2 separate regions of the Homo sapiens genome follow, and region 2 is reported to be linked to region 1. The links are microRNA targets in miRTarBase. Many come from high-throughput screens and were not tested one by one. Region 1 holds a microRNA gene; the other region holds the end of a gene's coding sequence.
What was found. The annotated mature microRNA hsa-miR-1271-5p reads CUUGGCACCUAGCAAGCACUCA and lies in region 1 at 2,497-2,518, shown strand. An mRNA with a match to its seed (bases 2 to 7 or 8) in the 3' UTR can be bound and repressed. Matches are read on the target gene's strand: a 7mer-m8 pairs with bases 2 to 8, a 7mer-A1 pairs with bases 2 to 7 and ends in A, and an 8mer does both.

Region 2: miRTarBase lists SPIN4 as a target of hsa-miR-1271-5p. Seed matches in the 3' UTR shown: 7mer-m8 at 3,174-3,180.

Annotation. Positions count from the first base shown.
Region 1 is chr5:176,365,464-176,369,530 of GRCh38, forward strand. MIR1271 (microRNA 1271) reads left to right here and starts at 2,483; the gene lies at 2,483-2,568. ARL10 (ARF like GTPase 10) reads left to right here and starts at 24. Exons shown (of 4, transcript NM_173664.6): 1 at 24-283; 2 at 917-1,118; 3 at 3,344-3,519. The coding sequence starts at 101. RefSeq lists a silencer at 1-278.
Region 2 is chrX:63,346,767-63,350,824 of GRCh38, forward strand. It overlaps SPIN4 (spindlin family member 4), which reads right to left. Exons shown (of 1, transcript NM_001012968.3): 1 at 462-4,058. The coding sequence starts at 4,053. The coding sequence ends at 3,304. It overlaps SPIN4-AS1 (SPIN4 antisense RNA 1), which reads left to right. Exons shown (of 3, transcript NR_046739.1): 2 at 2,874-2,968. Among named protein-coding and RNA genes, the nearest start is that of SPIN4, 2.5 kb to the right of the region's middle. RefSeq lists enhancers at 3,755-3,884, 3,985-4,034.

The DNA.
Region 1 (4,067 bases):
GGGTGGGTGGGCGCGGCCGCAGCAGTCGCAGCGGGGCCATCTTCGGCGGGCGAGTGGGCTCGGCCTGTGCAACCCGCACCTGCGTCCCTCGCCCGGCCCGATGGCGCCGCGGCCGCTGGGCCCCTTGGTGCTGGCGCTGGGCGGCGCCGCGGCGGTGCTGGGCTCGGTGCTCTTCATCCTCTGGAAGACCTACTTCGGCCGCGGCCGAGAGCGGCGCTGGGACCGGGGAGAGGCCTGGTGGGGCGCGGAGGCTGCCCGCCTCCCCGAGTGGGACGAGTGGGACGTGAGTGCCGGGCCGAGGCCTGCGGAAGGGCGGGCAGGCTGGGCTGCGACTCCGCGCATGTGGCCAAGGGGTGTGACCACGGAACGGCCCTGCTGGTGCCGGGAGCTTGGGGGGTCGAGGGCTTGGCAGCCGCAGCGCACAGGCCCCGCGCGGGTGGGCGGTCAGAGCCCGGGAACCGAGGAACGGGTGGGTGTGCTTGGGTGCGTGCGGCGCCTTGGCGCCACGCCGTCGCTCCACGCCATGAGGCTCGGGTGTTCCAGCGGGGGCCGGAGTTTGGAGGGCGCGGCTCGGGAGCATCCCGGGGCCCAGCCGGGTCGGCTCGCGCCCCTCCGGCGCCTGCGCAGTGCACCCCGCCCGGGGGTGGGGATGTCGGGAGAAACCCCATCCCCTCCCGCCTGCGGTCGGGACTCCGAGACCGGTGGAGGAAGCGGGGCGCGCGAGCGTTTAAGGAATTCGCCAAGGGTTTGGAATTCAGGACTGCAAAGGCGGCGTTCGTCCCACTCATCCAGACCATGCCTGCCTGTCCCAGGACGGGTGGAAGGCGGGCCTGGGCCCTCTGGTGCCTTCGGTCTTCCCTCGGGAAAGGTCCTTCGGGAGGCCGCCAGCCGCAACCTTACCTCCGCTTCCCCGCAGCCCGAGGACGAGGAGGACGAGGAGCCGGCGCTGGAGGAGCTGGAACAGCGCGAGGTGCTGGTGCTGGGGCTGGATGGCGCAGGCAAGAGCACGTTCCTGCGCGTGTTGTCGGGGAAGCCACCGCTGGAAGGCCACATCCCCACCTGGGGCTTCAACTCCGTGCGTCTGCCCACCAAGGACTTTGAGGTGGACCTGCTAGAAAGTGAGCGGACACCCTACCCCATCTCCCCGTCTCCTCTACTGGACCAGTCCTGGATTCTCTGCAGGGAAGGGGGCTTCCAAAATGCATGTCTAAGCAGCACATTCCCCTCTACGAATCCTTCCCACCGCTCTCCGGGGCACAGGATTCAGCCCACGCTCTGTGCTCTGACATTTAGGGCCCTTCGTGATCGGGCCTCTCCAGCTGCACCGCCTGCCCCATCACCCCTACCAAAGTCGATAGGCCTAACACAGAGATACTAACAGCTAAGGGTTCATATGCCAAGCACTTGACGGGCATTGCTTAAGAAAACTCCCCTAAACAATTACATAAAACTAGAATCGGTCACTACCCTCGTTATCTCCAGAGGAAAATGAGTTCCAGCAGTAGTATCATGAATCCAAGGTCACCCACCTTTCTAGTCTTTTTTTTTTTTTTTTTTTTTTTGAGATGGAGTCTCACTGTGACACCCAGGCTGGAGTGCAATGGCGCTGTCTCGGCTCACTGCAACCTCCTCCTCCCGGGTTCAAGCGATTCTCCAGCTTCAGCCTCCTGAGCAGCTGGGATTACAGGCGCCCGCCACCACGCCCGGCTAATTTTTGTATTTTTAGTAGAGACGGGGGTTTCACCACATTGGTCAGGCTAGTCTTGAACTCCTGACCTCAAGTGATCTGCCCGCTTCGACCTCCCAAAGTGCTGGGATTACAGGCGTAAGCCATCGCACCCCACCATTCTAGTTTTTTTTTTTTGGAGACAGGGTCTCTGTCGCCCAGGCTGGAATGGCAGTGGGCAGTGGCACACCCTCCTCCACTATTGCCTGTCTGGCCCAAACTAGTGTCATCTTTCCTCTCAGCACCACAGCCTCCTCTTTGGTCTTCCTGCTTCCCCTTCTGTCCCTAGTGTCAGCTAGAGAAAACCCATGTCAGGTAATGTCACTCTTGCTTAAAGCCCTTGGGGGGCTCCCCACCCCCTCACTGTGGTCTTTGGCCCCATGTGGCCCGCCCCAGCCAGCCTCACAGCCATCTCTTTCTCCTTCTTGCAGTGCCTCAGCACCCCAGCCTTCTTTCTGTTTCCCAGACACTTCCAGCATGCTCTCCCCTCTGTCTGGAATGCTTTCCTCTGCCTCTTCCCATGGCTGGCTCCTTCTCATCATCCCACTCAGCTCACATGCCACTTCCTTGATGAGACCTACCCAGACCACCCAATCCAGGGCCAACCCCTGTTCCACCTCAGCCACTTTCCCTTTTTTCTGTTTTATTTCTTTCCTTTTTGAAATGTGTTGATGTCATTGCCATGTCCTTCCCAGTTAGGGAGGGAGCTCCTTGGTGCAGGGCCCCTGCTTGCCTTGCTCACCTCTGTATCTGCAGCACCCAGATCAGTGCTTGGCACCTAGCAAGCACTCAGTAAATATTTGTTGAGTGCCTGCTATGTGCCAGGCATTGTGCTGAGGGCTTTGTGGGGATTCAGAGGTAAGTGCCTCTGACTCTCACAGCTTAGAATCCTCAAGTGTCAGAAACATAGCCAGAAACACTAGGGTGCGGGGTGACCAATGGGACTGTGCAGAGGAGCAGAGAGGAAAAGAAAGGTGATCCAGGCTGGGGGACTGTGTTGGCAACCATGTGTTCATAGGATGAAATATGACATTTCCAAGGGAAAAGAAGGGGATGGGGGAAACTGAATGGAGAATGGCTGTGTATAGGCAGGGCAGGGGGTCCTGAGTTTTCTAGACAATAGGACTCCTGGCTCCTGTCACAGCCATCACTGACAGTTTTGAACCTGTAGGAGAAAGCTAGGAATTAGCAAGAGGCAAAGCCAGACAACCCAGGGGAGAGAACTGAAGACTTCCATTTACTGAGCACCTGTGTGTCAGTCCCGTGAAAGGTACATCGCACGTGGTACCTGTGGGTTTTACTGCAACAACCCGTTAGGAAAGTTCAGTGAGGAGACTGGTGCTTAAAGCTAGGGACTTGCCCCAAGAGACCCGCCTATCAGAGCTAGAGCTAAATCCAGTCTGAGTAGCTGCGGAAACTGCGGTCTTTTCCTTGCCCCCGGCTGGTGGAAGCTCACTAAGCTAGAAGCAGGGTGGGGTGGGGGCTGTGGGCAGTGAGCGGGGGCCCGGGGTGGGGTGGGGGCTGTGGGCAGTGAGCGGGGGCCCGGGGTGGGGTGGGGGCTGTGGGCAGTGAGCGGGGGCCCGGGAGGCTCTGAGCTGGCCCCTGGCCTCTCCTCAGTTGGGGGCAGCCAGAACCTGCGCTTCTACTGGAAGGAGTTTGTGAGCGAGGTGGATGTGCTGGTGTTTGTGGTGGACTCGGCTGACCGACTGCGGCTGCCCTGGGCCCGACAGGAGCTGCACAAGCTGCTGGACAAGGACCCTGACCTGCCTGTCGTCGTGGTGGCCAACAAGCAGGTGAGGGCTGTGAGAGGGCAGCTCGGTCCAGGTGACATCCACTCAGAGATGCTTGGGCAGGGGCAAGGAGCGCTGCCTGGGCCCATGGCCTGGAGAGGGTGGCTGAGATGCTGCCCCCACCTCTTCTACCTATGCCCTGTCCTGATCCCTGCCTCTGTCTTCCTTCCTCTTTGCCTCCCTATCATCTCGTACTCTGGAGAGATGAGAAAAATAATTATTAAGTGCCTCCTATATGCCAGGCATGGTGTTTTGTTTTTGTTTTTTTTTTGAGACAGAGTCTTGTTCTGTCGCCCAGGCTGGAATGCAGTGGTGTGATCTCGGCTCACTGCAACCTCCACCTCCCGGGTTCAAGCAATTCTTGTGCCTCAGCCTTCCGAGTAGCTGGGATTACAGGTATGTGCCACCACACCCAGCCAATTTTTGTATTTTTAGTAGAGGTGGAGTTTTGCCATGTTGGCCAGGCTGGTCTTGAACTCCTGACCTCAAGTGATCCGCCCGCCTCAGCTTCCCAAAGTGCTGGAATTATAGGCATGAGTCACTGTGTCTGG
Region 2 (4,058 bases), not on the chromosome of region 1:
TAACTAGCATTCTAAGGTCAGTCCTATTGGTTGTGTTGTTGCAATCTGTTTTTCCACTGGAGAAACACAGATCCTTACAACAAAACATAAAATAAACTCCACATGGTTTAAAGTTCATCATTCATGGGGAAATTTAAAAAAAAAAAAAACATAAAAATCAATACTATTATCAGTTATGGTGATAATATGTAGTAAAAACATAAAACATGGGCAAGAATCATACCAAATTAATTACAGTGTCTGCCTATTCAAAGAATGGAAGTGGGATGGTACTGGGAAAGATATTTATTATCTGTAATTTTCTGACTGTTTAATAATATATATCTCTATCTATATCAAATAGGCCAAAATGTTGACACTTATTAATTTTGGGTGGAGGTGAGAAAATGTTTGTCATATCTTTCATACTTTCCTATATTTTGATTTAATTTTGATAAATAAAATACAAAGATAATTGAAAATACCATTATAGCTAATTATTTTATTACAATGTTTTCAGAATTAGATCTAGGTGACATAAAATACACAAAAGCATAAAGCCATCTGAATAGTACAGTCAACAAGCAACAACCAGTACAATCAGCAATAATAGAGAACTTTTAACTTTGTATGTCACAGAGAATGTATATACCTTTTTAATAAAAAGCCTGAATAAACCAATAACTATTAAAGAAATCACAAAGCTGATTAAAAATCTACTATTAAAAGTGTCATCAGGATTAGATTGTTTTACACTTTGTCCTAGCTAACTTTTAACAAACAAATAATTCTAATGCTATTTAAATTATTCCAGACCACAGGAAAAAAATTGAAAACTCACATATTCATATTTTTTTAAAGCTAGCACAACTTCAATAACAAAACTTGATAAAGATAGCATCAGAAGGACAAAATACAATTTTACTTTGGAATGAAAATGCAATAATTCTAAATTAAATACTGGTAAATAAAATCCACTCATGTAGCAAATCATTATTTCACAATGACCAAGTAGTATTTGTTCCAGAAATACAAGTTTGGTTCCACATCAAATGCCTACCATTCTAATTCATTACATCAACAAATTAAAGAGAAAAAAAATCATACAATTTTATCAATAGATGCTGAAAAGGCATTTTATAAAATTCAGGAACCACTTCTAGCAATAACACTATAAAACAGGAATAGCGGAAACTCTTAAACATGTTAATGACTACCTACTAATAACCAAAAGTAAATGTCATACTAATAGGGAATACTATTCCCTATTAATATTTTGCATTCTTACTTCCATGAAAATTAAGAACAAGACAGTCACGTCTGTCATCACTCTTCAACATTGTTTTGAAAAATCCAGCTAATGTAACAGTAATCAGTATAAACATTAAGAGGAAATAAAATGATCTATATGTTCAGGTGAAATAATTTCATATCTAGAAAACCCAAAATATTATATTCTTAAAAATCTACTGTAATTTCAATGATTAAATAAGCTCATTAGACAGAAGATAAAAATACAAAAATCTATAGGTTGTCTATATTGTCAAAAATAGCTAATTACAAATGAGAAGAAAAAAACCAATTCACAATGTCAAAATATGAAATAAAACTGTAAAAATACTTAGAAATAAATTCAGTTAGCTATGATATACTTACGTGAAGAATATTCCAATAACAAGACCAAAAGATTTCAATGATGTACGAAGACTCTTGAGTGCTAAGATTTAATATTATTAAAGAGCCCTCTAAACAAAAATGCAGGATTTTAATTGTGATGTCAGCCATCATAATTAGAATTTTATTAAAATTCTGCATTTCATTTTTTCACATGAAAAAATGAATGTCTAGGACATATTATATAAAGAAAAAAAAAACTAATGAAGTGGGACTTGCTTTATCGGATTCTAAAACTTACGATGAAGCCACTATAATTAAATCATGATATTGGCTCAGAAATTTGAAAATGGGTAACATTTTAAATAAATGTCACAATCAGGTATCCAATGTGAACAAAATGTTATAGCTGGATCCCCATCTTACACCATATACAAAAATAAATTTCAGATGGATCAAACATTTAAACATTAAAAATAATAAAGTTATTAGAAGAAAATGTAGGTGAATATTTGTATGACTTTGGGTGGGGGCATCCATGTGATAAAAAAAGGAAACCAAAATCTATAAAAGAGATAAGGGTCTACCTAAAAAGTTTAAAAATTTTAAAGGAAAATATATCATCAATAAAGTCAAGATGAAAACGTCATAACACATTAGAGCTACAAATGATTAATATGCACTATGTAGTAAGAATTTCTACAAATTTATAATGAAAAACATCAATAGATACATGAGCAAAGGGTAAGAACAGGCAAATCAGAGAAAAATCCAAACAGAAACAAGGACAGCAACAACAACAAACCTCTTTGAACTCAGACAAAAGGCAATTAAACTAACAAGCAATACAATGCAATTTTTAGCCTTTCATATTTTCAAGCATTAAAGAGTGCTGGAGAGGACGCTGGAACGGGCGCTTTCATTTTGGATAGTAATCTTGTAATATTTCTGAAACATATGCCTACATAGTATTTCTGGGAATCCAACCTATATAAATAAAAGCACCAGTATGTATTACAGCAGTGTTATTTTGAAAAAAAATAAAAAAAGGAAATAAAAGACGATCAATAACGAAATGGTTGAATGCCTTTTTGGTACATCAACAAGTACTGTGTATTCAGCTGTTAGAGTAAGGGAGGGAGGGGGAGAGCAAGAGTGCAAGAGAGTAAGAGTGAGGGCCAGAGAGAGCCAGAGAGAGCAAGAAAGACTGAAGCTACTGATAAGAAGAGATATCATCTACATGTCAAGTGAGAAAAGCATGTGGCTTGCCATTTTTACAGAAACTACTAGAACATACTTTCTGCATGAAGATGGGGAAAATAGGTGGAAGGATGTACTTCGCATCCTCAACACTTGTTTTCTGGGAAGAAACAAGGTAAGGAAAGGAAGGGGTAAGGACGGGGTGTGGGTTTACACCATTAATTTTTCTTAATCTATTTTTGCATTGTTCCAATGGTTGCAAACACTTTTTAATTTTCTATTAGCACCCAATTTAACTGTTAAGTTACAGAACAAGGCAATATCAAAAGTAGCAAAGTACACTTGAGGCAAAATTGTGAAACTAGTCAAGGTAAGATTTGTTGGCACAATAAAATTTATCCACTTTCCTGAATTTCTGACACCTAAACTCTTCTCTGCGTTCACAACTACGAGAACACAAAATAATTCACATCTAACAGATCCACAACTTCTCTAAAGAGCACAAAGAATTTAAGGAGTTTTCACCAAACCATAGACATAAATGTGAATATCATCATCAAACTTAATGAAGTAAACAGATGGCTTCGCCACCACTTGATGTATAAAAATGCCAGTTCTCTTGGACCCGTCATCTTTGGCATGCTCCACCTGCTTGCCCACGAGACTGTCGACCACCTCTCCAGGCTCCTGTTCTGCTGTAGGGAAATAGTAGTTGGAATCTGGAATAATGCGTAAGTCACCATCTTTGTAGTCATCAAGCAGCGTGTACATATAGAGAACAGGATCTTTCTCGTAGGTGATGTAAAACCAAGTATCCATCACAGGAGCTCGCGCCAGGACCATACCCTTCCATTCATCCTTGGTACCATGTTCACCTTCAAACACATGCTCCACTGCCTTGCCAATCAGGGAATCTGCCAGTCGTGAATCGATACGAGGAGTTGGCACTCTCTCAGGAAGGATCTCTAGCGCTAAAACTCTCTTATCGCGGTGCAGTTCTAGTCCATACACACTATCTTTGCCATCATATTTAATGATGTAAAGAGTGGGCTTCACGGAAACCTGCTCGAGCACAGTACCCTTCCACTGCTCCACTGGCTCGTTGCCTTCCTTCCAGCCGTGTTGAATGCGGCAGCCCACGATGTTCCTACGAGTGAGGAAAGTGGGCTTGCGCCGTTGCTTCCTGTGGGTGTGCCTTTTCTTCATCAGGTATGCGGACACGCCATCTACCCCCATCGGAGGCACGGTTGGAGGAGACATAGCTC